Linked DNA regions of Homo sapiens: all the other regions are reported to be linked to region 1. Evidence: microRNA targets listed by miRTarBase, many of them from high-throughput screens and not tested one by one. Region 1 holds a microRNA gene; each other region holds the end of a gene's coding sequence.
Evidence for each region. The annotated mature microRNA hsa-miR-4748 reads GAGGUUUGGGGAGGAUUUGCU and lies in region 1 at 3,046-3,066, shown strand. An mRNA with a match to its seed (bases 2 to 7 or 8) in the 3' UTR can be bound and repressed. Matches are read on the target gene's strand: a 7mer-m8 pairs with bases 2 to 8, a 7mer-A1 pairs with bases 2 to 7 and ends in A, and an 8mer does both.

Region 1 (5,074 bases):
TGTGGCTTTGGGGGTGCTGGGGAAGCAGGAGGATGGGTGGGGTCCTTATCATTACTGAAACCCCAGCACCTGTTCCCTGCCTGCCTGGAAGTCATTGCTTCTCCATTTCACCGTAACTCCTTCTTTCTTTTCCCTTTGAGCTATGTATCTTTTTCTTCTGATTTGTATGCATTCGTTTTTCAAGTGCACAATTAACACCTGCTGGTTTCTGAAACATTAGAAAACAAGTGTATAGAAAGAGGAAACTAAACTCACCCGCAGCCACACTTCCCCCAGACAGCCACTGGTGAATCTGCAGCTCCCAGCTCCCCAGGGTTTATAACTTTAATTAATTTTTTTATTACTTTCTATTATGAGCCTTCCCTTCCCTTTTCCTTTTCCTTTTTGTTTTTTGAGACGGAGTTTTTGCTCTTGTCACCCAAGCTATAGTACAGTGGCACAATCTCAGCTCACTGCAACCTCCGCCTCCCAGGTTCAACTGATTCTCCTGCCCCAGCTTCCTGAGTAGCTGGGATTACAAGTGGGCACCACCACGCCCAGCTAGTTTTTGTATTTTTACTAGAGACGGGGTTTCACTGTGTTGGCCAAGCTGGTCTCAAACTCCTGACTTCAGGTGATCCACTTGCCTTGGCCTCCCAAAGTGCTGGGATTACAGCCATGAGCCACCGCACCCGGCCTATTATGAGCATTTTCAAACATTCCCAAAAGTGTGGAAAAAAGTTCAAAGAATCCTCGTGGATGGCTTCCCCAGCTTCGGTGGTTATTATTATTATTTTCTTCCTGGAATATTTTATTTTTTCATTTTATTTATTTATTTATTTATTTATTTATTTATTTATGAGACGGAGTCTCTGTTGCCCAGGCTGGAGTGCAATGGTGCAGTCTGGGCTCACTGCAACCTCCACCTCCCAGGTTCATGCCATTCTCCTGCCTCAGCCTCCCGAGTAGCTGGGATTACAGGTGCCAGCCACCACGCGTGGCTAATTTTTGTATTTTTAATTGAGACAGGGTTTCACCATGTTGGCCAGGCTGGTCTCGAACTGCTGACCTCGTGATCCACCCGCCTCGGCCTCCCAAAGTGCTGGGATTACAGGTGTGAGCCACCGCACCCGGCCATCTTCCTGGAAGATTTTAACACAAATCCTAGGCACTGGCTGGGCGAGGTGGCTCACGCCTGTAATCTCAGTGCTTTGGGAGGCTGAGGCAGGAGGATGCCTTGAGGCTGGGAGTTCAAGACTAGCCTGGGCAACATATCAAGTCCCTGTCTCTACTAAAGATTAAAAAGTTAGCTGGGCATGGTGGCATACACCTATAGTCCCACCTACTTAAGAGGCTGAGGTGGGAAGATTGCTTGAGCCCAGGAGTTCGAAGCTGCAGTGAGCTATGATCACACTACTACACTCTAGCCTGCACAACAGAGCAAGATCTTGCCTCTAAAAAAAAAAAAATTCTATAAATCCTAGGCATTGTAGCATTTTACACATAAATACCCACATTTCTTTTCAAATACTTCCCCTTGCCATCCCATTTGTTTTTTTCTATACCATTCATTTGTGGAAGAAACCAGACCACATCCCACATTTGGGATTTGGCCAATTATTGTTCTCTGTTAGCTGGTAATTAGATCAGGTTCAGGTTCAAGTTCAGGTACAGATCTTCTGATAGGAGTAACCTAAGTATTTTTTATTTTATTTTAAAAATATTTTAAATATTTTGGGTCGGGCATGGTGACTCACACCTGTAATCCCAGCACTTTGGGAGGCCAAGGCAGGCGGATCACAAGGTCAGGAGATCAAGACCATCCTTGCTAACACAGTGAAATGTTGTCTGTACTAAAAATACAAAAAATTAGCCAGGCGTGGTGGCACACACTTGTAGTCCCAGCTACTCGGGAGGCTGAGGCAGGAGAATCGCTTGAACCCAGGAGGTGGAGGTTGCAGCGAGCTGAGATGGCGCCACTTCACTCCAGCCTGGGCCACAGAGCAAGGGTCTGTCTCAAAAAAAAAAAAAAAGAAAAATTTTTCAAGCATTTTATTTTATCGGAGCAGCAGTTTTAGGTTCATAGCCAAACTGAGAGGGAGATACAGAGATTTCCTATCAGCCCTATAGCCCACACATCTGTAACCTCTCCCACTTTCAACGTGCCCAGCAGAGCGGTGCATTTGCTAGAACTGATGAGCCTGCGTTGACCCATTGTCACCACCCCACCCCACATCCATGGTTGACATCAGGGTTCACTCTTGCTGTTATAAGTTTTTTTCTTTCTTTCTTTCTTTCTTTCTTTCTTTTTTTTTTTTTTTTTTTTTTTTTGACGATGTCTTATTCTGTCACCTAGGCTGGAGTGCACTGGGACAATCATAGCTCACTGTAGCCTTAAACTCCCAGGCTCAAGTGATCCTCCGAGCTCAGCCTCCCAAGTATTTGGGATTACAGGCATGTGCGATTGCTCCTGGCTAGGTTTTATTTTGTTTTGTTTTATTTTTTTCAGACAGAGTTTCATTCTTGTTGCCCAGGCTGGAGTGCAGGGGCACAATCTCAGCTGACTGCAACCTCTGCCTCCTGAGTAGCTGGGATTACAGGCACTCGCCACCACACACAGCTGATTTTTGTGTTTTTAGTAGAGATGGGGTTTCACCATGTTGGCTAGGCTGGTCTTGAACTCCTGACCTCATGTGATCCACCCGCCTCAGCCTCCCAAAATGCTGGGATTAAAGGCATGAGCCACCGTGCCCAGCCTTCTTTTGTGTTTTTTTAAAGCCATTCCTCCCCTCTGGCATCTACTCTAAGCTGCGGGCACCTCCTGCCTTTCCCTTCATGCTTAGCCGCAGTCATTTAGAGCATTTCTTTTACTCCTGGGTTTTCCACCTCGATGTCTGAGATAGATGTGGGGAAAAGTTCAGACCTTGGTTGCCAGCATCCCCCAGCACTGCTGAGATATTGAGTGGTGAGGCGACCCCGGATCCCAGGGGAATGCTGTCAGGGCTAAATTCAAAACCCTGTTTAGCTGTGAAGATCCGGGGCTGAGAAGCAAATCTGTGGCTGGCTGAGGTTTGGGGAGGATTTGCTGGTGCTAGAGAGGAAAGCAGACCCTACCCAACCCCACGCCCTACTACAGCCACCCCGACCCGGCTGCCCTTGGACACTGTTAGGCCTCCATCTTGGATCCTAAGGGCCTTTGGGGTCTGTGGGCACTAGCCAGGCTGAGGATTTGGTGATATGGGCCTCTTCCCCTTCCTCCTGACTCACTGATGTCCACAGCTGCCCTTCTCTGCCTTCCTTCCTGTTTCTAAGAACGAAGGCGCTTCCACTCTCAGCTCACTTGTAGGCCTGCTCCCGTTTTGTGACCTCAGGCTTCAGAAGCCCTCCCACTGGACCCTTTTTCCTGGCGTACTAATGACTCACAACTCCTCCTCCTTTACGGGAACCCAGGCTAGGCGTGGTGGCTCATGCCTATAACCCCAGGATTTTGGAAAGCACAGTTGGGAGGATGGCTTGAGGCCCAGAGTTTGAGACCAGCCTGAGCAACACAGCAAGACCCCATCTCTCTCTTAAAAAATTATCCAGGCTGGGCACAGTGGCTCACGCCTGTAATCCCAGCACTTTGGGAGACCAAGGCGGGTGGATCAAACCCCAGCTCTACTAAAAATAGAATTAGCTGGGTGTGTTGGTGCATGCCTGTAATCCCAGCTACTCGAGAGGCTGAGACATGAGAATCGCTTGAACCCAGGAGGCAGAGGTTGTAGTGAGCTGAGATTGCACCACTGTACTCCAGCCTGGGTGACAGAGTGAGACTCTGTCTTTAAAAAAAAAAAAAAAAAAAAAAATCCGTGTGTGATGGTGCACGTGCCTGTACTCCCAGCTACTCAGGAGGCTGAGTCCGGAGGATGGCTTGAGCCCAGGAGTTCAAAGCTGTAGTAAGCTATGATTGTGCCACTGCAATGCAGAATGGGCAGCAGAGCGAGACTCCATCTCTTAATTAAGTAAATCAAGCCAAATCCAAGCCAGATGCTTTTTACTGGCCCCTGCTGTTTCCTTCTTTGTGCTGTCACACAGGTGATGGTGACTCTGGCTTCACAGGGATCTAGGTTCAGATCTTGGGTCTCCTACTGTGACCTCACCTTGGCATGTCTTCGTTTCCCTCCTCCCTCTTGGATCCAAGAGAGATCTGGCGAGGATGAAGAGCAGTCACATCCCACAAGACCCTACAGGATAGATGACCGGCACCTCTCCCTTGCTTCTCAAGAGAAACATGCACAACCCCACTACAAAGAAAAGGGAGCACAGGCCAGGCACTGTGGCTCACGCCTGTAATTCCAGCACTTTGGGAGGCCATGGCGGGCAGATCATGAGGTCAGGAGTTCGAGACCAGCATGGCCAACATGGTGAAACCCCGTCTCTACTAAAAAAACAAAAATTAGCCAGGCGTGGTGACGCACGCCTGTAATCCCAGATGCTCAGGAGGTGGAGGTTGCAGTGAGCTGAGGTTGCACCACTGCACTTCAGCCTGGGCAGCAAGAGTGAAACTCTGTCTCAAAACAAAAAACCCCACAAAACAAAAACCTAGCCAGGAGTGCAATGGTAGGCATTCCACTTGGATTCTTTGCAACAGTGTGTATTGAATTATCCAGCTTTTCTCCCCCATATACTGAAGCGTTAACTTTCAGTTCTACCTCCTTCTCGGTGTAGTTTTGGACTTTCTTTTCAGTTCCATTGATCTCTCTGGACATGAATACCCTGATGTACCCAACTGTTTAAAATATACTCGTTTGATAGTGGATTTTAGCTCTTCCCTATTGCTCTTGTTTTTAAGATGTTATTTCTTTTTTTTCTTGTGAGACAAGGCCTCGCTCTGTTGCCCGGGCTGGAGTGCAGTGGGGTGATTACAGCTTGCTGCAACCTCGAACTCCCAGGCTCAGGTGATCCTCCCATCTCAGCCTCCCAGGTAGCTGGGACTATACACGTGTGCTACCACGCCTCGCTAATTTTTGTATATTTTTGTAGAGATGGGGTTTTGCCATGTTACCCAGGCTGGTCTGGAACTCTTGGGCTCAAGCGTTCCACCCGCCTCGGCCTC
Region 2 (5,074 bases), not on the chromosome of region 1:
TACCAAATCAATATTCAGGATCTTAGACAACACTGCAGATAATCTCTGCATTTTGTTTTACTCTTAAAAAATAGATACAAGCCATACAAAAGTACATAAATTAAAAAGTAAAATATCACATGAGTAATACAGGAAGTGAAACCTTACTCAGGTAACACACAAATACAGGAAACAGATAAGAGGAAAACATTCAAGTCCTCCTTTGCCTCCTCCACAGTTAACCACTGCGAACTGCTTAGCATTTGGGCATCATCGGCCATCAGCAAGAAAACGCATCAGGATGGCTGGCTGACTTTTCTCCTTTCACCAGATGTTAACAATGCTGTAGACACATCTGGGCCCCCAACAGATAAGGGCTGTCTGGGCCCAAGACAGATTAAGGCTGGCTTCTAACTGTCTTTCCGTGTATTTTTATCTATTTATCCCCACATGATATACATATGTCATTTATTTTCTGTGTTATAAATAGGATTATATCAAACACTTGGTACTTGTTTTTTCTTTTCTTTTACATGACATCCTATTTGGGGTTTCTTTTTAAAATAAAACTATAATATTAATAAAAACTTAAACTTTACAGAAGGGCAAAAAGTAAAACAAAAACAAAAACACAAAATCCTTTCCTTCATTGTATCCCTCCATTCCCACTCCCCAGAGCACACAGATAAATATACTTTCATGTATCCTTTTAGAAATGACAAGTGCTTAAACGCATACATACTTGATCTGTTCACTTTATAATAAGAAAGTGAGAACTCAGAGAGGTCAAATGATACACCCAAGGTCACACAGCAGACTGTGGCAGAGGCAAGTGTAGGACTCAGTGCCCTGCCTCCCAGAGGGCAAAGGTTTGTCCACTGTGTCTCCAACAGGTTGGCCCAGAGCCAGTCTCGGCTAATGTTCCTCATCCCTCCCTACCTTCAACCTTGTCTGCCAGCCTGGTGACTCTCCATGTTGCCCATGCCCCCTCCCCTCCCACGAATGCCCCAGCTCAGTGTATTAATAGCCTGCACTTGTGCCGCTCGTCCAGGAGGGCCCTGCCTGATTGGTCATTTCAGGAATGCCTGCTGTCTCCGTCAGCGCTGTCCTCACAGAACAGTGCAATGGCACCTGGCAAAGTGGTTCAGTGGGCTTGTGTTTGTGCTTTTGTTCCCCAAATTACAAGTGACAATTAGGTGCAAAAGACTCTTTGTAAGGATAATTCCATTTAAGTAACCCCTTGCCCTGGGAGGAACCGACATCTGGTCTACACTCTGTGCTAGGCTTTGGGTCCCCATGTCTGGCCTTGGGGAGTTTGCAGCTTCATGGGGGAGGATGGGCACACGTGCCGATAACTGGCCTTGCTCCTTCTCTCTTCTCTTTGCATGTGTCAGCCTTATCTGTCGTGGGCCCAGATGTTTCTACAGCATTGGCAACATCTGGTGAGAGAAGAAAAGTCAGCCAGTCATCCGGATGCATTTTCCTGTTGATGGCCGATGATGCCCATCTGCACATCTGGGAAACATCCAGATGGTCAGACCATGCGTGCTGTACACTCACATGTGTGGTCCTGCTGCCTTCGATGACATGTCCACCGAGGCAGACAGAACCTGGACCTGTGAACTCTCCCCAAGCCAGGCCTGTTCAGTTCAACTTGACCTCACCGATGGACATTTTGTTGCAAGCAGAAAAGAGGAAAGCCCAGAACTGGACACTGGGTATGGGGAGGGTAGAGTTTCTGGGGGAAGGCAGCGGCAGTGAGAAGCTGCCAGCTAGAGAAACTGACCTTGAACATGAAGTCTCTTGACTTCACAGAGATGGAGCCTGGAGGTTTTGCCTCTAGTGGGGAGCTTTGGAACAGGGCGTTGTCTTCCCAGCCCCTTTCCCTTTGATTAACTGCCACTCACGGACCAGTCTCACTTCCTGGGAAACAAACCCGCTTGAGATCCGTGATTCTGCAGCGCCCTCTCGTGGGCAACTGGAATCTGTCTGGAGAGAAAACCTCAGGACACGGGCATATGGTCGTCACACATGTGGGCATTCACGGATTTTAGAATCGTATGTCCAAGTCCTTCCACCTGCTCCCACCCACTATATTATTAAGTCCTAAACGAACAGCTGACTATTTGTATATGCGGGTGGGAGCCTGGTGGAAATCTGTTACGAGAGGGCAAAGGACTGAGGGCAGGGCTCAAATGTGTTAAGGCGGTGTAGACAGAGATGGGAAAGAATCCAAAACGGTGACATGCATGTGTGTGTGTGCATTGAGTGCATGTGTGAGACATCCTGTGCTAAACAGATTCTGCCACGTTTCCAAATGATTTGGCACAGCCTGTTTACATCCTCCAACCTTAAGTCAGAACACCCTCTTTAGTTTCCTTCTGTGCCCCAGAGAGCGTTTTGTCCAAGCCTTCCCAAGCCTGATGAAGAGGGGAAAGTACAGACTCAACAGAGGGAAAGAGGTTCCAAGAGTGTGTGGCCTCAGGCTGGTAAAACTCCAGGTGTGAGTTTCCCTGGTGAGTTGTGTGCCTCCCCAGGCTTGCTGGAAATTAAACACGATCTGGTTGGAAGGCCCCAACACCAGGTCTCCTGGCCTTGCTGACTCCCAGTCCAGGGAGATGGAGGCTTGGTGCAAGCACGAGCCCCGCTTTCCACCCACCCAAACCGAATTAGCCTCTCCTTGACTGCAGGCCCCACTCCTCCTCTCGTATTCTTCTTCCCGTTCCTCCTCACATCTTAAAGATGACATCCTCACTCCCATCCTGCTCTGTCCCAGTCCTCAGGGTATGTTTTGCCTTCCCCTTCCCAGGGCCTGCCTCAGCGTCTTCCTCCACCATCCCCTTCCTATTGCCCCTTTCAGAAGAGAGCTTTCCCCCACCTTCATTCTTCCATCCACCCAACTGGCTCATCCCCTGCAGGTCACACCCACCCCTACTGCTGCATCCCAGCCCCACCTTAGATAAGGGACATCATCATCCAGGTTATGATCCGGCTTCTTTACCTCCCCCTTTGCAACCATGGACTTCCAACCCATGGAAAAGAAAGGTGCCAGCTACAATCCCATTGGAAAGTGCCTGGTTCCAACCCCATGATGGCAGCCTTGGGGAAGGGTGCTTTACACTGTCAAGAAGAGAACCTATCAGGACTGACTGCAAGGTGGAGGATGCCCAGGAAATGTGGGGCTCACAGGAGCTCATGGTGTGGCACAGATGGAAATGTCCAGCTCAGATGGAGGAGGTGAGGCCCACCCTGTCCTCTGCCCAGGGCCGCTCCTCCCCACAGTATGTGCTGAGAGAGCCTTTGCTGCCTCTGCTGTTCCCTCCTGCCCAGACAGGGACAGACGCAAACAGAGGCTGGAAAACAGAGACAGAGGGAGCCAGGATAAAGAGAAATGATGTAGATGCACGAAAGCCTGGAGCAGCAAGGAGCTGAACTGAGGTGGAATGTCTTGAGCACTTGGCGTCTCATGTCACCTCACAGCAACTGTGACTGACGGATGGCATCAGCTTATTTCACAGATGAAAATAACAGACATGGGGAAGCTTCCAGGGCCACACAGCCAGAGTGTGGCTGAGCTGAGCTTCCAGGCTTAGCCCGCTTCATCCCCAGGCACTTGGCCTTTCCACGACAGAGAGAGGCACACAAAGAGGCTGTCTCCATCCTGTTTCTCAAGCGACTCAGCACACAGAGAGAAGGAAGAGGCCAGCATACAGAGCCCAGAGAGGCTCTGAGGGACGCGCCAGGAGAGAGGGAGATGGGGAGACAAAGACACAAGGAGGGGCAGGGAAAGATGCTGCTTATTTCTCCCTATGCAAATGGATTTGGTGGAAAATACATATTTCAGGTTTCATTCCCAGATCATCAGAATCAGAATTTCTGGTAGTGGGACCAAGGAATGTGCATTTGAAGAAGGCTCCTCCAAGTAGCAAGGTGTGCTGAGATATTTGCACCTAACTTGAAAATGCATCCAAAAAATCAGATAAATTGACAGATGGAAAGAGGGAGGAGGAACTGATGGATAATATGTGATAAACAGAGCAAATTATTAACTGAGGAGTCTAGAAAGTAGGTAACACTGTTCACTGTATGATTCTTCTCACTTTTTGTAGGTTTGAACAATTTTATAAGATGCCGGAGAAATAAGCTTCCAAATGACTGTGATGATTGGGCAGGTTTGGGACCATGGATGTGGGGGAAGGCTCCGTCGGAAAATGTTTGGAGGAGTGGTTGCCCTCTGCCCCCTCGAACCCCACCCCCAAGCTCCCGTGACCAGCCTCTGGTTCCCTCACTTTCACAGAAACCCCAGAATCTACAGCAGACTGAACAAGGCACTGTCCCTTCCCCTGGGTTCTAGAGGAAGTTCATCTGCCCCTTGGGGTCTCCTGTTCTCTCTGTTGAGCAGGATTAGGGGGTCCCTAGGCTTTGTCTTATTGGGTGGGTCATCTGAGGCTGGTCCCTGTGGGGGCATTTATACTAATGCAATGAAGCAGACCCATGGTGTGGACTTGGGGCAGAGCTTGGAGAGGTGAGGCTAGAAATTCTCTTGGAAAAATCTGAAGCCGAACTTCTCACAATGGCCCTTCAGCACCTTGGCCAGAGCTGGGGAGCCACAGAAGAAGACCTGCACCTTGCCCTTCTTCTCAGCAGCCACTTTCTGGAACACCTGGAGTCAGTGGGGTTGAGGAAGAGAAGAGGGAAGATAGGTGGAGCTGCTGACTCACCAGTGACACAACCACCTGGAGGTAACAGCATAACGGGTCGGCAGCAATGAGCATTCCCATTTTACACAGGGAGCTGCATGGCACAGCTGCTGGGTTTTACAGCAGAGTTCAACACTCAGCCATTCAACTAAGAGCCATTTGTTCAGCTGGCAACATGACCCAGAACCCCAGGTAGAGGACCAGGGCCAGAAATAAATAAGACCCAGGCCCTCCACTCAAGGATCTGCAACTGTGGGAGACAGGCACTAAATCAGACACGCAGAGAGATGCATACAGTGCTCTGGGACTCCCATGGGAGTCTGAACCTGGTGTTAGTCCCCAGGGCTGGCCACCCTGCTGTGATTTAAATATCCTTCCTGATGTCAGTCTTTCCC
Region 3 (5,074 bases), not on the chromosome of region 1:
GTTCAAACAATTCTCATGCCTCAGCCTCCAGTGTATCTGGGATTACAGGCATGTGCCACCATCTTAGCTGGTTTTTTTTTTTTTTTTTTTTGTATTTTTAATAGAGACAGGGTTTCACCATGTTGGCCAGGCTGGTCTCAAACTCCTGGCCTCAAGTGATCCACCTGCTTCAACCTCCCAAAGTGCTGAGATTACAGGCGTGAGCCACTGCGCCCAGCCACGAGGCTACAAGTCTTTTCTGGTATGTCAGGTTTTTATAGGCTGAACACCGCCTTTATTCAGAAACAATGAGCATGTTAATTAAATATTTATGCTGATTCATTGAGTGTAGTGCATTAAGTTTTCCCCACTTGTCAAAACTATTGACTTAAAAAATATTTTTCTTGAAACATTTTGTGCAATTTAGATTTCCTCATTTGACAGGAGCCTTTTTTCAGGTGAATCAGATTTAGTGAGAATAAAGTTCTTTGATTATTTGGGGAAGACATGGTAGATACTTTGAGTCCTTGCTCTCAGTCTGAGTGATGTAACTTTAAAGCTGTCATAAAATTAAATGTTTGTTTGTTTCTTTTTTTTTTTTTTTAAATAATTACCAGGGCAAGAGCACTTTGAACACAGCTGGGTTTTCTTCTTCACAAGCTCCCAATCCAGTAGATGATGAGTCATGGGATTAAAGCCAAAACATCCTTCAAGTCTGTGGTTTTGATGCAGAGAAGAAAATAGTTTTGATTTTTGAGTTTTTAACAGAAGTATAAAACTTAACATTCTCATAGCTCCTGTCCTTGTATTCTCACTCCTACACTTAAAAAAAAAATCCTTACTGACTAGTTATGTGAGATGCTAAAACTTACAACATTGCAGTTACTGATACAAATGGTGTTAACTGGGAATATTAAAGCATTCTAAATGTCTTTCTTATTTCTGGTATATTCTTTAGGGGGCTTAGACATGTTTAATGTTTAAATGCCAAGTCTTACTATAGTGTTTATTGATCTTATAAAACAAGCAAATAGGATATGATACACTTTTGGTTAAAAATTACTGGGTCTCATTTTTACTTGAGTCTTTAAAACAGTAGTGTGTCACTATAATGTGATAATCTTTAAGAGAAAGTAGAATACTTAAGCCTTTCAAAGTGATTTTGATTTTTAGATCATCAGATGTATGATGAAAATGGTTAAATGTTTGTGATGGGAGCTCTGTACTCAATGGCATAACAATGTTTATTTTTATAATATACAATCTTTCCTTGAAATAAAGGATGAAACACTTTTCCCTTAAGTTTTCCATCAGCACTTTAAATTTTTCTTTGTTGCATATCCTAGCCCAAACTCCTATATTTTTGAAACTGTTTTTTTGTGTCTTGCGTAACCAGTGCAGTGAACAAAGTCTTACATAAATTAAATATTAATGTATAAACATTACTGCACAGATGTGGCAATGAAAATCAATCTTAGAACTCAAACCCGTTTATCAACAAAAAACAATGCTGCTTACTCTTTCCATAAGTTTTTGATTCATATTTTAAGATTGATGAAAGAACCCTGTCTTTCTTCATTTTCCATTATATATCTTGAACTTACTATGCCTAGAATAATGAAGTTCTTTTTTTTTTTGAGACGGAGTCTTGCTCTTGTTGCTAAGGCTGGAGTGTAATGGCGTGATCTTGGCTCACTGCAACCTCTGCCTCCCGGGTTCAAGCAGTTCTCCTGCCTCAGCCTCTCCCGAGTAGCTGGGATTACAGACACGCGCCACAATGCCCAGCTAATTTTTAGTAGAGACGGGTTTCACTATGTTGGCCAGCCTGGTCTCGAACTCCTGACCTCGTGATCCGCCCGCCTCCACCTCTCAAAGTGCTGGGATTACACGCGTGAGCCACCGCACCCAGCCCGAAGTTATTAATTAATTGTTAAATGAACGAACCCAAATATTTAAGACCCAGTGAGGTGTAAATACTGGGGAGACAAAAATGATTGGTATTAAGTGTTACTGTTCACCTAAACAATCCAAAGTGACATGTCCCTGATGTATATCTTGTTATAGGAATTTAGTTAATAAATGAGGCATCACATATGAAAAAGGAAGGCATATCAACAGATAGTGTTAGAATAACTGGGTAGATGCCTACCTCATGCCATATTTAAAATTAACTTCATGTGAATTATAAAATATTAAAGCTAATAGTTAAATATTAACCCTTTGAAGGGTTGACTTTAAGCTAAGGAACAGAAATCAAAAAAGAAACAACAGATTTGATCACTCAAGGAAAGATTAGTTGCCTACATAAAAAATAGTGAAAAGTAGACAAGGAAAAATATTACTGTGACCACAGTGGTTATCAGTGTTCTTTATATGTGGATATACTAATAGAAGAATACAAAGAACATAGAAACTCAAAAAGGGCACCAGCATGGCACATGTATACATATGTAACAAACCTGCATGTTGTGCACATGTACTCTAGAACTTCGAGTATAATAATAAAAAGAAAAAATGTTGACAACAAGAAAAACTCAAAAAGGGAAGTTCAATTAATAAAAATATGGGACATATTTCACTTTTCTTCTGTTATCTCACTTCTGGGAAAGGCTAAATGAATGAAGGTGTTTGGATTGTTATTTGTAATATCTGTATGTCTTAATTTTCTAGTTTCGTTTAGGAAGAGTATAGGCCAGTCTTGTCTCATTTTTTTCATTGCTTTTTTTTTTTTTAACAGATTGCTCCCTCTGAACTGATTCCTTTTAAGCTTTTGCTTGATTTGTCAGATTACCATAGTAGCATTACTGAATCAAATATAAAAAAGGAAAGGAAATGTATCATACATCTACCACCATTACAGATGAACTGTAAATGTCCCTATGTTTAATTACTCTCCTCATTTCTAGGTATAGGTTTGAATCATCTCTTTAAAAATTATCAAAGTAACATGCATAAATTAGAAAAGAAAATGCCATAGAAGCATTTATAATAGAAAGCAATATTTTTCTGCCCCTCCCCTTCCAAATTGCCATTCCACATCCAACAATCAGCTATTATTAACAATTTCTGTTCACTGCCATCATATACAGGTTGAGTATCCCTTATCTGAAATGCTCGGGACCAGAAATGTTTCAGATATCAGATTTTTTTTTGGATTTTGGAATATTTGCATAATATATAATGAGAGATCTTGGAGATGGGACCCAAGCCTAAACATGAAATTCATTTGTTTCATTATACCTCATATACAACTTGAAGATAAGTTTTGATATTTTAAGTAATTTTGTGCATGAAACAAAGTTTGTGTACCTTGAGCTGTCTGAAAACTAAGGTGTCACTATCTTAGTCACATGTGGACAATCTGAGGCATCACATTGGTGCTCAAGGTTTCAGGTTTAGGAGCATTTGGGATTTTGAATTTTTGGATTAGGGATGCTCAACCTGTATTTTTATGTCACCAACCAGAACGTCTGTTGACTTTGATATATGAAGATTTAACTCACATCTCTGACTCGCCGTAGAAGTATACCTGTGAGATGATTTTAAAGGCACCTTTTCCTTTCCTCTATTTGTATGTCATAACATCTGTAAACTGCACATTTACATTTCCCAAGTTAACATTTGCATTTTCTATAACCATAAAGTCTCCCTTATATACACAGATTCCAGAATTGAAAATCAAAAGCATGTGTTTATATAAATATTGTTCACTGGATGGGCCAATTCACACAGTCTTGATTGCCTCACCTTTACTATCTTCCTAATTTTATGACTTTTGTGTCTGCAGGGAGAATGGGAAGTGTCAGGGTCAAATGAAAACTGCCCAAAGCCATTCCACATACCAGCTTGCTTTGAATTTGGATCACACAATTTTTGAGCAATTTGTTTACCCTGTTTGTAGTGTTTTTTTGTTTTGAAGGAGACAGATCATGCATTTTTCATATTACCTTCCCAGGTTTGATGTTAATTTTCTTAAAAGATCCCAAAAGATATTGGTTGTCTTCACTTTTATGATGAATGCGACTTGTGTGTGATACTCAGGGTGCTTTGAAAATTGTTTTTTTTTTTTTTCTTGGTCCCTAGGAGTGTTTTTTGTATTTGATAATTTTTTTCCCAAGTTTTCTCTGTTCTCTATTTTTGGAGCTTCTATTAGATTCCAGAACTGAATTCTCTATTGTATCTTTCCTGTTTTTTTCATCTTTTATATTCTAGTATATATTTTTTACTTTCAACCGTTTTATTAGCAATTGTTTTTAATTCTCCAGAGCTCGCTTGCTCACTCTATATATGTTTAAATGTTGCTTAATAATAGTGAATTTTCTGCTTTACTAGTGCTTTTTAAATTCCTGGAATTTAACCTAAGAAATCATGTCTTATGTTGATCATTTGTTTTTCTGCTGCTTGGTGTCAGATATCTTAACCCTTGATCATTTTATAAGTTGTAGGTACACATGCTTCTCAATTTACAATGGAATTACATCCCGATAAACCCACTGTAAGTTGAAGATATCAGTAAGCCAAAAATCCATTAAATACACCTAAACCTGCTGAACATCATAGCTTAGCCTAACCTGCCTTAAACGTGCTGACAACACTTACATTAGCCTAAAGTTGGGCAAATTCGTCTATAAAAAGCCGATTTCATAATGTGTTGAATATCTCATCTCATTTATTGAATACTGAAAGTGAAAAACTGGTTGTATATGGGCACTCACCATTAACGTACACAGCTGAAAGCACACTGGGCCAAAGAATGTTTGAAACATCTAGAATTGCTGGATGACAGGGATGCCACGGTGACAGGGCAATCAATTTCTCTTCTGGTGAGGCTCAAGAATAAGCACTTGGGCATCCACACAGAATGCTTTAGCGTTTGGGTGGTTTACACTCGTGGTCTCATGGCTGGCTAAAAGCTGTGTCTGGCTGCTGCTGCCCATCATCACAGTCTCCATCCACCACATACTGCTAGCCTGGGAAAAGAGCAAAATTCACAGTACGATTTCTGCTGAATGCATATCGCTTTTACACCATCATAAAGTCAAAAAGTCATGTAAGTTTAACCACTGTAAGGGTCCGTTAGGTATATTTAATGCAA
Region 4 (5,074 bases), not on the chromosome of region 1:
GCAGAAAGCTCAGGAAAGAAAAAGTTAATAGGTACCTTTAATAATGAAAATGAAGATACTGTAGAAGTATATCAAACCTAAGAACACTTTCCCAAAGTACTCTTAGGTCGGAAATGAAGACCACTGCCTATGGCAGCATTTCCTCTTCTTGGCAGAGGCAAAGTAAAGAAATAAATCCCAAAAGTCACTCAACAATTCTCAATATATTCCATTTTGAGTTGCTATTTAAGTTGAAATGAAAAATTGTACATTTATGTGCTAAAGAACAGAACAATTATTACAATATAGACATGTACAGATTACTTGTTAGATGAATTTAAACAAAACAAGTTAGTTGAAACTTAACTGAAAATTTTTCCCCTTTCAGTCTTTGTGGTGGGAACGACGGGCTTTTCCACTGAAGGGTGAAGACATGGCAGCCTTATTATGTCAAGATGAAAAAAAGGATCAGGTTGAAAGGTCAAGCACAGCTTTCCATGGTGAAATCTTCGGTACCAGTGTACCAGAGAATGGCCACCATCCAAAAAAGCAGTCAGATGGAATGGAAGAATACAAAACCTTTGGTCTAGGACTTACTAATGTTAAAAAAAATAGGTGACAGGGAACAGGTTAAGAAAACTATGTAAATGTAGGAAAGATGGGAGGAAATAAAGCCCTGTTCTGGATCCCCCATCCCCTCCAGAATAAGAGCATGTTCTGCATGTATTAATCTTTTATGCTGTTTATGAAACAGGCAAGATAAGTCTGTTTTTCCTTCTGGAACCATAAGGGTAACCAGATTTTCATCTACAGACAAGTGGTAGTCATTTGTGTTTATCATGCAACTTACTTACAAACACCAAGATATTAATTGCTGCAACTTGATGTCAAATCACATTACTGGGTAATTTTTAAGACTATGTACCCACACCATACATACATACATATATATATACACATACATACAAACCTGTGTGCCAAGTGACAGCTATTTTTTTATATACATGGTAATTCATTAAAATTGCCTTAGTAATATATTAGAATATACAAATATGTGTGTATAAAATAAACATACACACACACACACACCCCTATGTAGTTTTTAAAACACTGGCAATGACCCACTCCCCTTGGAAATGCATGTATGAACTACCCTATGAAATGTAAGCTGCAGAATAGATAAAACACAGGTTTCCACTAATAAAAGACATCTGAACGTCCTGAATATAGAGACAGAAGTTTTTTGTTGTTGTTGTTGTTGTTTTAACATGTTTAACCAACAGAAGTTATTTACAGAAATTCATATATCCAGGCAACACAAAACTCCTTTATTCAAAATCACTGCTATCTTTGGGACTAAACACAGGCTACTTTCTGTTTACTCCTAACAAAATAAAGCAAGCAAATTTGAGTCAAATATTGGTGCACTTTAATACTATCACATCTTTGAAAACTCAATTTGAGTTTTACCAATTAATGTGTCTCATGAAGAGAAGACACCAGTTTTAAAATGAGCCACAAACAGTAAAGCCCTATCAGTATAAAATTTGAAAAAAAAAAAAAAGATGATTGTATTTCTAGATTAGCAAGAAATTAGTTAATTCTGGCTGATTTCTATTTCTAGCTAATTTGGTCATTCTTTGCCATAGCTTACTCTATTCAAATAAACATATATTCTTGCTTGCATCCTAGATTGGAAATTAAAATTTTTCAAAGAACAAAGCTTCAATATTGGATACTGAAGAGTATACATGAAAGAAAATTCCTTTTGAAGCTATTAAACCATTTTTTTCCTATGTGAAAGTTGAGGACAATTTATATAACTCACTTTTTGTCATGTAAAAAAGGTTACTCAAGTTGTACTACCCACATAACTGAAAATATTGGCCATTTGGCCTTATCTGTGAGATTTGACACTAAGTTTTTGTTAGAGATTGGAAATTATACTAGTCCTTTTAAGGGGTAAAAAATTCAATTCAATACTGACAAACTTTTGCTTGTAGTTTTACTGTACATTTATTTTTAAAGAAAAAGAAAACAAAAGCCAGACAAACCCAAGTTGTCCAGGCAAATAAACTCAAATCTTTGTCACGTCTGATATTATAATCTTCTATGTAAGTTTTTTAATTAAAGTTATTTCTATATGCCGTGTGTTGCTTGTTATTAAATGCGACGTATTCATGGCACAAAGCTTTCCCAAGCTGAATAAAAACAAACATTAACAAATTTTTACCTTGTAATGCAGGAAGAAACCCAAGCAAGCTCTAGTCTGTGCTTAAGTGTTAGCATTCTTATTTTTTGAACCTTATTTCTCAAAACTTATAGTAGCCTCAAGAAGTCTATTGATATTGGTCATGTTTATTTCTTGCCATATTTATAACACAGCAAGAGTATTTACAGGAATGAAGTAGCTGACACATATTTTTAGACTCTGTATAATTCAGAACAGTTATAAATATTTAGTTTATGGATTGACTCTGTATCCTGTCATCTTTTCGCCTACCTGATCTTTCTTGGAATAAAATAATATATCCTTGGGGTCAAGATCCATAGTTCCAGAATTTTCTCAGCCATCTGGTTCTGCTACAGCGTAAAATTAGACTGGAAATAAGACAACGTTAAGTAAAAAGCTTCTTTTACCTAACCCACCTCCCAAGGGCTCCATTTGTAAAAGTACAGACCAGAAATTCTACCACTTCCCAGATCCTTTCCAGGGTACCACCCTATTAAGCATTAATTTCTTCATTTTTTAAATGGGGACAAAAATATCTGCTTTATTATTACCACTTACTTATAGAGGTGATTTACAGATTTAATGAGAATATATCAAAGTACTTTATAACTCACAAAAATATAAACTTATATAATGCTGTTTACTTTGTGTTGAGCATATTCTAAATTCTGGGACTAGTACTGGAAACTTTACATATATAGTGTTAGCTCTTAATTCTCAACAGAACCCCACAGTTGCTATAATTACATTTAATGTATAAATGACTTTAGAGAAACACAAAAAAGATTGGGTGATTTGTTAAAGGTCCAGCTAGAAAGGGGCAGTCAGAATTCAACCCAATATTACCTCCAAACAGAGGTTTTACTTTTTCCTTTCTACTCAGAGCTAACACAACAGCATTATTTAACGTTCTTAAGAATGGTGGGGAGGAATCACTGAATAACCTGCTTTGACAAAACACCCTGATAAAATCTATGCTTGTATTTTAGAACCCCTGGGTTTCACACATTGTTTTTATAGTTTTCACACATCAAGTGTAAGGTGAAAAGTGATAGATTTTAAGAACCAAGAATATGGTATGCACCCCACCCAAACTTATAAACAAATCACAATAACATGAAATAGAAAAAAACCATAAAGACTTCCTTTGCTTTTGGAAAACAGCTGAGAAACAACAAAATTCTTTTCAGAAGTACAGACAAAATTTGTTTTTGTAGTGTAGCTAATATGCCCTCCTTAGACATTAAGACACTTTTCTGTTTGTAACCCTAATGCAGCCGTATTTTTACTTTATAAAAATCAAATCTCTCAATAAAAACAGTATCTTACTCACTAATCAATAAATTGCATCACTAAAAATGTAGTTATACACACCAATTTCTGACCTCTTAGAATATTCTGCACAATCAGTTTTAATCACTGGAATGAATAACTGCTCAAAAAAGCAGTACGGCTTCAATTGCATTGTGATTTGGTAGTCAATATTCCTGTTTTCCAGTAAAAGGGAGATTTCATGAACAGGAACACTGGGCTCCTTATGGTTTCACCGATCAAGAGAACGTTTCTGAGCAGCTTCTGAGCAAACATTTCTTAATAGATTGATCACAGATCTGGGGTCTTCACTCCTCATAATAGCACTGCCAGACACAATCATGTTAGCTCCTGCCTGGAAGAAGTAAACAGTTAGGTTATGCCTCAAAGGAAAATGTAGAAAAACCTAAAACAGAATTCCTGGACTAGAGTGTCTACCCTTGCATCTGTCAACATTTCAATCATATGAGAGCCACTTTGAGATTAAGCAGACTTAAGCAATCTAGTTCAATAAGAAAAATTTAAAATGTTCACAGATGAGGATGTCAGACTATTTTTAAATGTGTCTAAGAAATCATTGACCTTTCTGGTAAACCAACTCTTAATAATCTACATGGTATCTTTGCGACCTTTAGATAAGGTTTAAAAGCCTTTACTCCTCAAGTCCACTAAGGTTTTTCCCAATATGCACCAATGCCTCTACAGTTACTAAAAAAACACTTTTATTCTTTGAATTATATTTATATGAATTTGTGAGTGTGAAAGGACAATTATTGCTAAAAATGTAAAATTATCCATAAACTACGGCAAAATTAAGTGAGTTCTCGTTTTTGTGTCAAAAAATAGAATGTCTCTTTATACTTCATTGCATTTCAGAATGGTTTTGAAGTGGCTTTAAAAAAGTTTTTAAGATACATTTAAATATGGAAGCAAAGAAATTGAAAAAGAAAAGCTAAAAAATTGGGTCCAAATTTAACTCTGATCTTCCTAGGATCTGATTCAAGGATGGAAACCCAATCTGTTTTGTGATTCATTGCTAGAACAAAGAGGGAGAAGTGGGAGAACCACAGGCTGAGGAAAATTTTTCCAGACAGATAGTGTCACTTCATGTATGACAACATTTCTAACAATATTCCTCACAGAAATTATAAAGGTGAGTTTTATAGGGTTAACACTGCAAATATTCTCTTCAGTTAACCCATTTATGCCTAGTGTTCCATTATTGGAACGCTAAGCTTGTGGGAGTTCTTCATATCCTGCTGTTTAAGGTCATCGCCAAGGTCTGATTTTTCACACAAAAAATTTGCTACCTCTGGCATAAAAGCAGGAATAGTATACTGGCAAAGCACAGTTTAGTACAAAGCAATTCCACAAGCGATCAAAAGGATATGAGCTCACTCATCATCTGGCCAGCCCCTCCTGCATAAGTATTTACTACTGTCAAGCTTTTGATAGGTATATATCAAGCAGAAACGTGTGGCAGTTATACAAGAACCTGGAAGTAGATACATCACACTGTGGAAGAAAAGCAGTCATGTAAGCTTTAATCAC
Region 5 (5,074 bases), not on the chromosome of region 1:
TGTTCTGGGAAGTCAGGTTACCTCCTGGGCCAGGGCAGGACATGGCCCAGGACCCTGCCAGGGGCCCCGGAAGCCACCTCCCCACCGTGCCTCATCTCCCGCCCTCCTGGGCGCTGGGTCTCAGCAGCAGCCACACTCCCCCCTCAACCCCACCCACTCCCCCTGCCTCCTGGTTCAAAACTACGGGCCCTGTGACCAGCCAGAATCTGTGAGGCCCAGAGTAAGTTCCCATGAGGGAGAAGCTGGCTAGGGCAGCCTAGGCCAGCGCCTAAGCTGTCCCTGCAGTGGTCAGGGCAGGGGGGTTGGGGGAGGGCAGGCAACCCAGAGTGAGTCCATCAGCCTAGAGGGTCCAAGAAGAACCTGCGTGCCCACCAGGCTGCAGGGCGGGCCTCCTGCAGGCCGCGGCATGGAACAGCTGGGATGCCAGCGCTGGGTAGGGGGTGTGGAGGGGGTACCTGAGCTGACGCCAGAGGGCCCAGCCCCTGAGGAAGGCCGAGGGGCAGACGGGATGCAGACTTCAAGGGCTACTTCGGATTTGTCCTGGGGACAGTGGGGGAGCCCTGGTGTGGGGGGGCGGTCTCTGAACACAGGAAGGACCAGATGAAGGCCCCACAGGGCTGGTCACTACCAGCAGCGCCCACGAGCTCCTCTGGGGCAGGAGGACCCTGGAGCTTCTCCCTGTGACCCGGCCCCGCTCTTCACCCGCAGAGCACCTTCGGCCTCCAGGTGCCTTTCTTCTTCTTCGCGGCCATCTGCTTGGTGAGCCTGGTGTTCACAGGCTGCTGTGTGCCCGAGACCAAGGGACGGTCCCTGGAGCAGATCGAGTCCTTCTTCCGCACGGGGAGAAGGTCCTTCTTGCGCTAGGTCAAGGTCCCCGCCTGGAGGGGGCCAAACCCCCAGTGGCTGGGCCTCTGTGTTGGCTACAAACCTGCACCCTGGGACCAAGAGGCAGCAGTCATCCCTGCCACCAGCCAGAGCACAGGAAGAGCAGTGTGATGGGGCCTCAGCAGCGGGTGCCCCTGGCTCGGGACAGGTAGCACTGCTGTCCAGCCACAGCCCCAGCCCAGGCAGCCCACAGTGCTGCACGTAGCCATGGGCCGCAGGAGTGCATACAACCCTGCATCCAGGGACACGGCCCTGCTGGGTGACCTCAGGCCTAGTCCCTTTCCCTTGCGTGAAGGACACGCCCCACAGAAGGCTACGGGGAGGACTGAGAGGACAGGGCTGGAGGCAGCCAAGTAACGTAGTCATATCATCGCGCTCTGATCTGGTGGCATCTGGCTGTGCAAGGAAGACCCGGCTTTGCCCTCACAAGTCTTATGGGCACCACAGGGAACATCCTGGACTTAAAAAGCCAGGGCAGGCCGGGCACAGTGGCTCACGCCTGTAATCCCAGCACTTTGGGAGGCCAAAGCAGGTGGATTACCCAAGGCCAGGAGTTCAAGACCAGCCTGGCCAACATGGTGAAACCCCGTCTCTACTAAAAAATACAAAAAAGCTGGGTGTGGTGGCACACACCCGTAGTTCCAGCTACTTGGGAGGCTGAGGCAGCATTGCTTGAACCCGGGAGGTGGAGGCTGCAATGAGCTGAGATCATGCCATTGCACTCCAGCCTGGGCAACGAGAGTGAAACTCCGTCCCCACCCCCTGCCAAAAAAAAAAAAAAAAAAGCCAGGGCAAAGGACCTGGCGTGGCCACTTCCTCCTGCCCCAGCCCAACCTCTGGGAACAGGCAGCTCCTATCTGCAAACTGTGTTCACCCTTTTGTAAAAATAAAGGAACTGGACCTGTAGTCCTAGCGAGGAAAGAGTGGGGTCTACTCCAGGAGCCCCCACAGCAGCCAGGCTAGACCCGAACCAGCCAAGGTTGCCAGGGCCACTGACTGCTGATCCATAGCAAAAGCAGGGCAGGGAAAAGGCTGCAGTGAGGGGAAGCCCACTGCGAGGCCCACCCTTAACAGGCTCTTTCTAGCTGTGTGACCTTGGGCAGGTCACTTTCCTTGTCTGGGATGCTGGGGGCAGCCTCGGGACAGGACCTGTAGTTATTTCCTGGGCCAGCGGCTCCTGCCTGGCTTCCACACTCACACACAGGCACCAAGGCAGAAGGGAGCAGAGGGCAGGCACGCGAGCCACGGCCACGCTTTATTGCTTAAGACGCACACAGAACACAGAGGAACAAACAAGGAGGAAAGGGCGCCACACACAGCCCAGACCAGGCAGGAGCGGCCCAGCCGCCGGAAGAGACGTTCCTTGCAAGGCAGGGCCCCTGCTGGACAGCACGCCCCCTGGGCGACAGGGTCAGGGACCCCAGGACTGCACAGCTGCAGACTTGCTGGGAACCTGGGACAGGTGACACGCCCACTCTCGCCTGTGGCCCAGGGCCTTCCACCTCTGCATCCAGCCATGCACCCACCATTTCCCCACAGGGTACAGGGGCAGCCTTCCTTGATCCACAGCCAACCCTTCTCCTGCTGTCTCTGGCTGTCAGTGAGACCCCTCTGGAAAGGGCAGAAGCAGGCAAGCCAGGCAGAAGGGGGCCCGGGGTCCCACTACCTGGGTAGGAATGAGCAGAGGGCGGGCAGAGCCCTTGCTCCTTGTGGGAGGTAGACAGGTCTCACTGCATACATGGGACAGATGTGTGCACCCACACACATATACATACACACACACACACACACACACACACACACACACACAGCCCTTTGAACCCAGCACTGGCCTGAGGAAGGTGGCCCCGGAGGAACCCTGAAGGCACATGTCCACCAGGCTATAATGCCCCTGCCACCCTGGGGCTCAGCTGGCCAGACTCCCAGGGGTGGGATGCTGCTGACCCAGGAGCCCACCAAGTCCCCAGGGCAGTACTGGGCAGGGCCCAGAAAACCCCACGCCCAGCCCACCAGCCTGCCACTCCTGGCCTCAGATGCCACTCCCGGCCTCAGATGCCACTCCCAGCCTCAGACGCAGATGGGCCCGAGAGGTGTTCCTGGGAAACAGTTCACTTAGCAAGACCCAGTACCTGCGCTCCAGAAGCTCAGCGCAGGCCCAGCCTGGGGTTGGCCCCAGATGGAATATCTTCCACACCCGCCCGCTTCTGCCAAACCCCACCTGGGCTAAGCCAGGCCCGACCAGGCACCTGCCCGATGGCTGAGAGCCAGCCTCACGGTCAGAGAGGCCAGCGGGCTGAGGCCACAGGGCAGAGGGAATATGGGGGTGCACATCCTGGGCACCAGCTCTCTGCATCCTCCCTGGGTAGGCCTGGCTCCGGACAGCCTGGCACCCAGGGCAGTGGGGACAGCTCTGTGTGGGGAGGTGACTGTGGCCTCTGCCCAGTTCTTAAAAGGCAGAAGCTCCCTGAGGGCAGGGCTTGGGCAGGCCAGCAGGAGCACCTGAGTGGGGCTGAGGTCAGACCCACTAACCCACTAATGGGGCTGGGCTGTGGCTGATGTTGACGGGGCCACACCAGGGAGAGGGTGGGCACCCTCGGTGCCAGGGAGAGCCTGCTCTCCCCACTTCCTTAGCACCAAGGCCAGCAGGGGCGGGGGGTGATGGGCAGAACCTAGGGGCCCCAGCAGGCCCAGGGAGGAGGGGCAGCCGAGGGGCCTTGAGGTGGCCTGTCCAAGGTTCCCAGGGCCAGCAGGGAGCATCCCCCACCCAGCTGTCCAGTCACTGCCAAGGCTGCAGTTCCAGGTACCGGGGTGCACCTTAGGAGCCCTGTGGGCTTCTTCAGAAGGCAGGGTGACAGTGGGCGCTGCACCCTAGGCAGCAGTGGGAGGTTGCTGGCAGCGGCAGGCTGTCCCAGGCCCTGGGGCTCCACCTGCTAAGAGAGCTGGGGGAGGTCCCTCTGCTCAGTGCCCAGGTGGCAGGGTCCCACTTGCCCCTCCCCTCAAGCCAGGACCAGCATCTCCAGGGGAAGCTGCTCCCAGGTCACAGCAGGTCACAGGCAGCCCTGTCTGTGGTGTGAGATCTGCAGACCCACCCAGCAGAGGAGTAGGGCTGGGTAGTGTCCACACAGCTGCTGCAGGCTCTGCCTCAAGTCCAGCAGCCCAGACCCTCACACCAGCAGCCAGTGGCTCCTGGCTTAAGCCAGTCTGGAGAAAGGAGCAGAGGACTCCAGGTGTAGGGACACGTGCAAAGGCCCCTCTCCAGGCTGTGCCTCAGCGTGGACAGTCCAGGCCTCACTTGGACCCACACAGAGCCAGAAGAGGGGACAGGGAGGGAGGGGCGCCCAGCCCTTCACAGCTCCCCCTCCAGGGTCTCCGCGAGCTTCTCCTCATCCGCCTGCTGCCTCTGCTGCTGGATCCTGGCATAGGAGATCGCATCGCCCCTGGGGAGAGAGAGAGGCAGCGTCACGTGGAGCACCAGCCCCATGCCCACAGCCCTCCTGACCACTGCCCGGTTCCTGCCCTGTGACCCAGGTGTGACCTGCAGGCATTCTGATTTCCCCAGAGACAACTGCTGGGGTGGCAAAGGCCTGTCTTGTCCCCTCTGAGAATGGCCCAGGCTCCCTGGGATGCTGGGCTGCGAAGGAACCAGCCTCAGTCTGGGCTCTGCAGGAGAGAGGGTGGCAACTGAGTACAATGCCCGGTGCAGACCTGGGAGGGGAAGGGGCTCCCACCAGCCATGTTTTTGCTATCCTTGCTGCAGGCCGTGACGGGGCAAGACTGGGCCACGCAGAAGTGTTGTAAGTCCTCTGTCTTCACCCACTCGAGCTGAGCCCTGGAGGCACCAATGAGTTACTGGGACCTCTGCCTCGGTCTCCACTAGCTAAAAGGGGCCACTCTCAGATCCTCCTCACTGAAGGACTTCGGGGGGCGGAGGGAGGAAGGCCCTGCCCAGGGGCTGGGCCTGGCAGACGCACTTTTTGCCCAGAGCAGAGAGTCCGTACAGCACCCCCGTAGCAAAGGCGATGGCGTTGCCCAGCAGCGTGGTCAGGGTCAGGCTGATGACGATGGGAACGACCGCCATCCTGGGGGGAAAGCAGAGGTCAAGGGGGCACTCCGGCCCCACAGCCACCACATCCTTCCCCGCTTCCCAGACTCGGCCCAGCATCCTTCCTAGACACCCAGGGCACAGGAA
Region 6 (5,074 bases), not on the chromosome of region 1:
CACCACATCCAGGTAATTATTTTACTTTTTGAATCATGATATGTAGCAACCAATCTGGGAATTATTTATTCATAAAAGATAACATTTTCCTGCTAACTCCAACCTCAGAAAAAATGTATTATGCCTGACTCAAATATGTCATTATTTTTATGAGAAAAAGAGTCATATTGAAGTAATTATGTCTATATGTAATAATTATCATTATTTGAGATAATTTGCATTGGGGAGAAAAGCAGGCAATCAGAAATTACATATTCAAGGCTGGGCGCAGTGGCTCACGCCTGTAATCCCAGCACTTTGGGAGGCAGAGGCGAGTGAATCACCTGAGGTCAGAGTTCAAGACCAGCCTGACCAACAAGGAGAAACCCCATCTCTACTAAAACAAAACAAAACAAAACAAAACAAAAAAAGCCACAAAATTAGCCGGGCATGGTGGCACATGCCTGTAATTCCAGTTACTCGGGAGGCTGAGGCAGGAGAATTGCTTGAACCTGGGAGGCAGAGGTTGTAGTAAGCCGAGATTGTGCCACTGCACGCCAGCCTGGGCGACAAGAACGAGACTCAGTCTCAAAAAAAAAAAAAAAGAAAGAAAGAAAGAAATTACATATTCAGGTTCTAGCAAATGCAGTTCTCTAATAAACACTAAATAAATCATAATACAAGTTACAGTTAAACCTAATTGTTTTACTATATAGGATGTATCTTTTTTGTACCTATATTTTATCTTCCTTTGCTTCTCTGGCCTCTATTGGGAGGCAGCACGGTAGTGAACACCTCGGGGATCTTTCTGGTTACGTAAACCTGAGTTTTAATTTTGGTTCATACTACCTTTTAACTTTGGGTAGTCTGCTGAGCTTGTTTTTTGTTTTCACTCATCTGTCATATCAAGCTAGTAATAATTCTGCCATGGTTTTGGTTTTCATATTGAAAGGCATTACATAAGCAAAATGCATAACATATAAATATTAGTTCCCTTTCCACTATGCATCCAATCTCCCTATTAAATTAAGCCTAAAAATAATAATTTTTGTTTTATTAAAAGCCTTCCACATTCTACATATGAAAGGGATTTTTTAAAGGTGTTTTAGATAAAAAATGTTTCAACCAACTGACCAAGAATATCTCTTCATATTTATGTCATCTACATAAAAACTTACATTTATATCATATATCTTTTAGTCTTCTTTTCTATATTCTTGATTGTCATGTTGTACAGCCAGAAAAGAATGAGTATAAATTATCTAGATTTTTTAAAGTGCACATTCAAACATAGAAAATCTAATTATTTTACTTGTTTCTTAGTATTAGGCTGAGGCCAATGAGTCCATGAGCTAAAGGGTTGAAACTTGGCACCAAAAAAGTGATTGTTTATGAGTCCTGTAGATTTATACTGAGAAAACATCATGTCTTCCAATGTGAAATACACTAAAACCTGATTTTTTGTCTCTTAAGGTGTGCTAGGTGAATGCAAAAAGGATCAGGAAAGGGGGTGAGGATAGGTCAGGAAAAGTGCAAACACAATGTTCTATTCATAAATTAGTGATGGCATATTTAAGGTTAAGTAGTAAAAAATATGGGGGGCTCAGTTAACACGAATGAAAAAATAGTTAAAGTAGCCATGAATTATCTGGATACCTTGATTTAATGACACCCTTTCTTCTGTACAATTTCATAATGTGGGAATAGAGATTAGTGGGGATTGTAGTGGTATACCCTGACTTTGCTTCATGATATCTCAAATGTTTAAAACCTATTATTCCCTAGAGAAAGAAATATGTTCATACTAATTGTTGCAGAGGCAGAAGCCAAATATATCTCCTCCTCCATTTATGTGACTATATAGTAATGAAAATCCTAGGTTGATACACTTTTCTCAATCTTGGAAAGATTCTGCTAAAGCAGCAAATCTTCTAACAAGTTCAAGAGGGTGGGGAGAGTGAACAAGTAGAATAATTTATATTACCCTGGAACAATTCTGAATCCTGTAGGTATTTATGTCACTGTTTCAATTGTGTTCTGGTTTAACTGTCAATATTTATGCATAGCAGTTAACGTGTGTGCATATTTGTAACTGTGCAGTGCTACTGCCAGGTGTGACTGTACAAATCATGTGCTTTGAATGTGCAAGTTTTACTTTCTTTTCTAACAATTTAATACAGTGTTAGAAATAAATAACGAATGAAGACAACCAAAGAGCAGCCAGACAAATGTGAACTGGTTTTGACGTGACGAGAAACTCATCAGTAAGTAAATAAACCTCCTCCCTGGAGAAGGCCACTGAAATGCACCCAGGAGGATGTCTCTACTAGAAGGTAATAAAAAATATATATAATGTAGTCTTTGACCTAAAACCTCATGATTATTACTTTGCCATTTATTTCCCCCTGGTATCTGATGTTCATATTAGTTTAATGTGCCTTTTCAGAGAATTCAAGACACTTTTTGGAAAGTAGAATTTTTTTTTGAAAATTTATGATTGGAGAGGTACTACACAATTTAGAGGTTACATTTCTTGACAAATCTGAGTTGAATAAAAAAGAACTAAAAATATAAACATAGCTAATTCAAGAATCAAGATCGGGTGAAACTAAATTAAAAACAGCCATAAAGTCCCACATTTTCCCTAATTTATTTACCTATGATATTGGCACATCTTGTTTTACTTAACATTTGAAAAATACAAATATCTCTTCATATGCAAAAGAGCAAATGTTAAATGAAAAACTGAATTTTATATAGCTTCCTAAATATGAGCCACATGCTTAAGCAGTGAATTAACTTTATGAATCAAATGTTTAATGTTAACTATTACAAAAGCCTGGTATCCAGGTGCAATCTCACCAGAAAAAAATAGCACCTGCCTTTATTACAATAAAAAAAATGGCTAATTCCCTTTGACATCTTAAGAGTGACACTACTTTGTCAAGCACTAAATACTTTTTAAATTAATCATGTTAAACTTCAGATTTATAGATATAAATATTGTATTTATAACTTTAGTCATAATGTACAATTTCTTTCTTGTTTAAAAGTACTTTCTCACTCAAAATGGTATTTATAGTTTAAAAAGAATATGCCTCTGTATTCAGGAGTGATTCAAATTCCCAGATGTTTTCACATAGTTATGAAAATGGGAAAGTGCTGAATTAAACTGGGCTGCAATATTTCAAGTTTTTTGCTATCAGGTTATAAACTATACCTACGATTGCAAGTCATACAGTGCCTCTATTTCTAGAAGGCTTTTAAAGTTTCCTGGCTTAGTTATGTCCAAAGGCAGCAGGAAGTCTCATCAGTAGAGGGCAGAATTTTCAAGTGCTGCCATTCTTATCCCAGGAGGCATTTCCAGTGGTTGAGCACAAGGCCTGTTTGTAGTTTGCTTTTGCTCTTGCATTTTGTGGAAGGGAAGGAACTGAGAGAGCTTAGAGGGTTCATTAAAACCACCCCTCACTCTCTTAGTCGTAGTCAGATGGAGTATTCATAACAGTAACCTCCAATTACCACTATGTGTTGGGAAAAATTAGAATTCGGTCTACTTACAATCCTGCCAACTAGGATTTTACTTTGATATTTCAGTATAACAGTGAATCTGGATTGATGCCTGATTAAAATAAAATCCCTGATTATTACTTTCTGGATTACGAACTAAAATCCCTGTAAAATCAATGGATGTGACTCATTGTTAAGAGTCATGCAGACTTTTACATATTAGGTAAGAATTCTAAAAATTATTTGAGGGTTCTATTCTCTAGCACCAGGTACTAATGCTCCCTACTCAAAAAAAATCATGTGCATGGATTAATCAAGTCTAACAGTGCTCAGATTTAATGGTTTAACATTGATTTTCTTTTCTTTGTCAAACTTATATATGCAAATATTTTTATAGTAGTCAGATGTTATTTTTGAATAAGGATCACCCTCATTTTTACCCATGTGCTTATCTTTAAAACCAACATTGTAAAGTAGCACGCAGACATATGTTTCTTTTATCTTCATGGATTATTTTTACCTTAAAAATAAATTATCATTTTTTTTTTTGAATTTGGGTTTTATTCTCCAGATACTCTGTGTACATGTGGGTAAGTATGTGGGAGTATGTGTGTTTGTGTGTAAGAGGGGATAATTAATTGTCTCTCAACTCTATCTCATACTTTAATATCAAATAAAAAATGAAATGTATAAAGGGTCACTTTGTAGGATTAGGCATCCTCCTTCTACCTACTTAAACCAGGGGTTTGGGATTCAGAATTCTCCATATAACCAAGACCGAAAGTCACTGGAAGACTTTAAAATTAGTATTTTAACCACCACACCCAGAGTCAGGTATGGAAATAAACCTATAGCATGGATTCTTTCTATGCATAATCTCAAAATTTAACTACCCAAATAAGTAAGTTTTTAAAAACTAATTTAAAATTTGCCATTGAGGAAAATATCACCTCCATCCTTAATTGTGACTCCTCATTTCAGCTAAAACCTTTTCTAATACTTTAAAAAAACAAAATGAAAAACAAACTCCTAGATAAAGTCATAAACACTGAAATCAGAGATGTGATTCTTGTTAAATGTTAGTTTCTCTTTCTGAGGTTACACTCTGTGCATTTGAAACTTTGACGTTAACATCTTCCGAATGTTTAGATTTGCTCAAGGGTTCAGATTCTCTGGTCTTCTGCCTTGCATTTTCCTCCTTCCTTTCCTTTGCAAGCAATCTATAGTTGATAGCATTGCCAATGAGCAGCCACACGCTTGCTGCTACCACAATAGCCCCACAGGACATGTACATGTATTTATATTCTCCAGTTAAATCCACCAATTTACCTAGAAGACAAAGAACATCTTTTAAGTTGGCATAATAAAACAGTCATATAATGATAAAAATTCAAATAAATTATTCTTCAAAGTATATTCCTCTTATTTAAATTAATGTCAAATAAGACTTTAAAAATAAAAAAATCTAGATTATGACTTCTACATATGCTTAGTAAAGGTATGCAGAGACACTTACAGTATTATATTACTAGTACATTAAATTTACTAAAAATTATTTCTCTCAGTAAAATATACAAACAAGACAAAC

Region 2: miRTarBase lists NOX5 as a target of hsa-miR-4748. Seed matches in the 3' UTR shown: 7mer-m8 at 4,150-4,156, 8mer at 4,086-4,093 and 7mer-m8 at 847-853.
Region 3: the mRNA of DDX4 is a reported target of hsa-miR-4748. The part of its 3' UTR that is shown has no 7-base or 8-base seed match.
Region 4: miRTarBase lists KANSL1L as a target of hsa-miR-4748. Seed matches in the 3' UTR shown: 7mer-m8 at 945-951.
Region 5: miRTarBase lists SLC2A6 as a target of hsa-miR-4748. Seed matches in the 3' UTR shown: 7mer-m8 at 924-930.
Region 6: miRTarBase lists SLC16A7 as a target of hsa-miR-4748. The part of its 3' UTR that is shown has no 7-base or 8-base seed match.

Annotation. Positions count from the first base shown.
Region 1 is chr19:10,777,218-10,782,291 of GRCh38, forward strand. MIR4748 (microRNA 4748) reads left to right here and starts at 3,037; the gene lies at 3,037-3,118. All of the region lies in intron 5 of DNM2 (dynamin 2), which reads left to right. RefSeq lists an enhancer at 138-487.
Region 2 is chr15:69,056,133-69,061,206 of GRCh38, reverse strand. NOX5 (NADPH oxidase 5) reads right to left here. Exons shown (of 16, transcript NM_024505.4): 16 at 1-4,642. The coding sequence ends at 4,511. SPESP1-NOX5 (SPESP1-NOX5 readthrough) reads right to left here. Exons shown (of 17, transcript NR_033672.2): 17 at 1-4,642. Among named protein-coding and RNA genes, the nearest start is that of EWSAT1, 22 kb to the left of the region's middle. RefSeq lists an enhancer at 727-1,226.
Region 3 is chr5:55,815,867-55,820,940 of GRCh38, forward strand. It overlaps DDX4 (DEAD-box helicase 4), which reads left to right. Exons shown (of 22, transcript NM_024415.3): 22 at 597-1,291. The coding sequence ends at 674. Among named protein-coding and RNA genes, the nearest start is that of IL31RA, 33 kb to the right of the region's middle.
Region 4 is chr2:210,018,473-210,023,546 of GRCh38, reverse strand. It overlaps KANSL1L (KAT8 regulatory NSL complex subunit 1 like), which reads left to right. Exons shown (of 15, transcript NM_152519.4): 15 at 368-2,126. The coding sequence ends at 598. It overlaps RPE (ribulose-5-phosphate-3-epimerase), which reads right to left. Exons shown (of 6, transcript NM_199229.3): 6 at 1,287-3,878. The coding sequence ends at 3,756. Among named protein-coding and RNA genes, the nearest start is that of KANSL1L-AS1, 8.9 kb to the left of the region's middle.
Region 5 is chr9:133,467,811-133,472,884 of GRCh38, reverse strand. It overlaps SLC2A6 (solute carrier family 2 member 6), which reads left to right. Exons shown (of 10, transcript NM_017585.4): 10 at 709-1,791. The coding sequence ends at 864. CACFD1 (calcium channel flower domain containing 1) reads right to left here. Exons shown (of 5, transcript NM_017586.5): 4 at 4,857-4,964; 5 at 2,037-4,322. The coding sequence ends at 4,232. It overlaps LOC124902295 (a long non-coding RNA gene), which reads left to right and starts at 4,318. Exons shown (of 2, transcript XR_007061831.1): 1 at 4,318-4,413; 2 at 4,643-5,074. RefSeq lists a silencer at 3,291-3,410 and enhancers at 3,871-3,920, 3,991-4,040, 4,121-4,280.
Region 6 is chr12:59,779,164-59,784,237 of GRCh38, reverse strand. It overlaps SLC16A7 (solute carrier family 16 member 7), which reads right to left. Exons shown (of 6, transcript NM_001270623.2): 6 at 1-4,815. The coding sequence ends at 4,559. Among named protein-coding and RNA genes, the nearest start is that of SLC16A7, 190 kb to the right of the region's middle.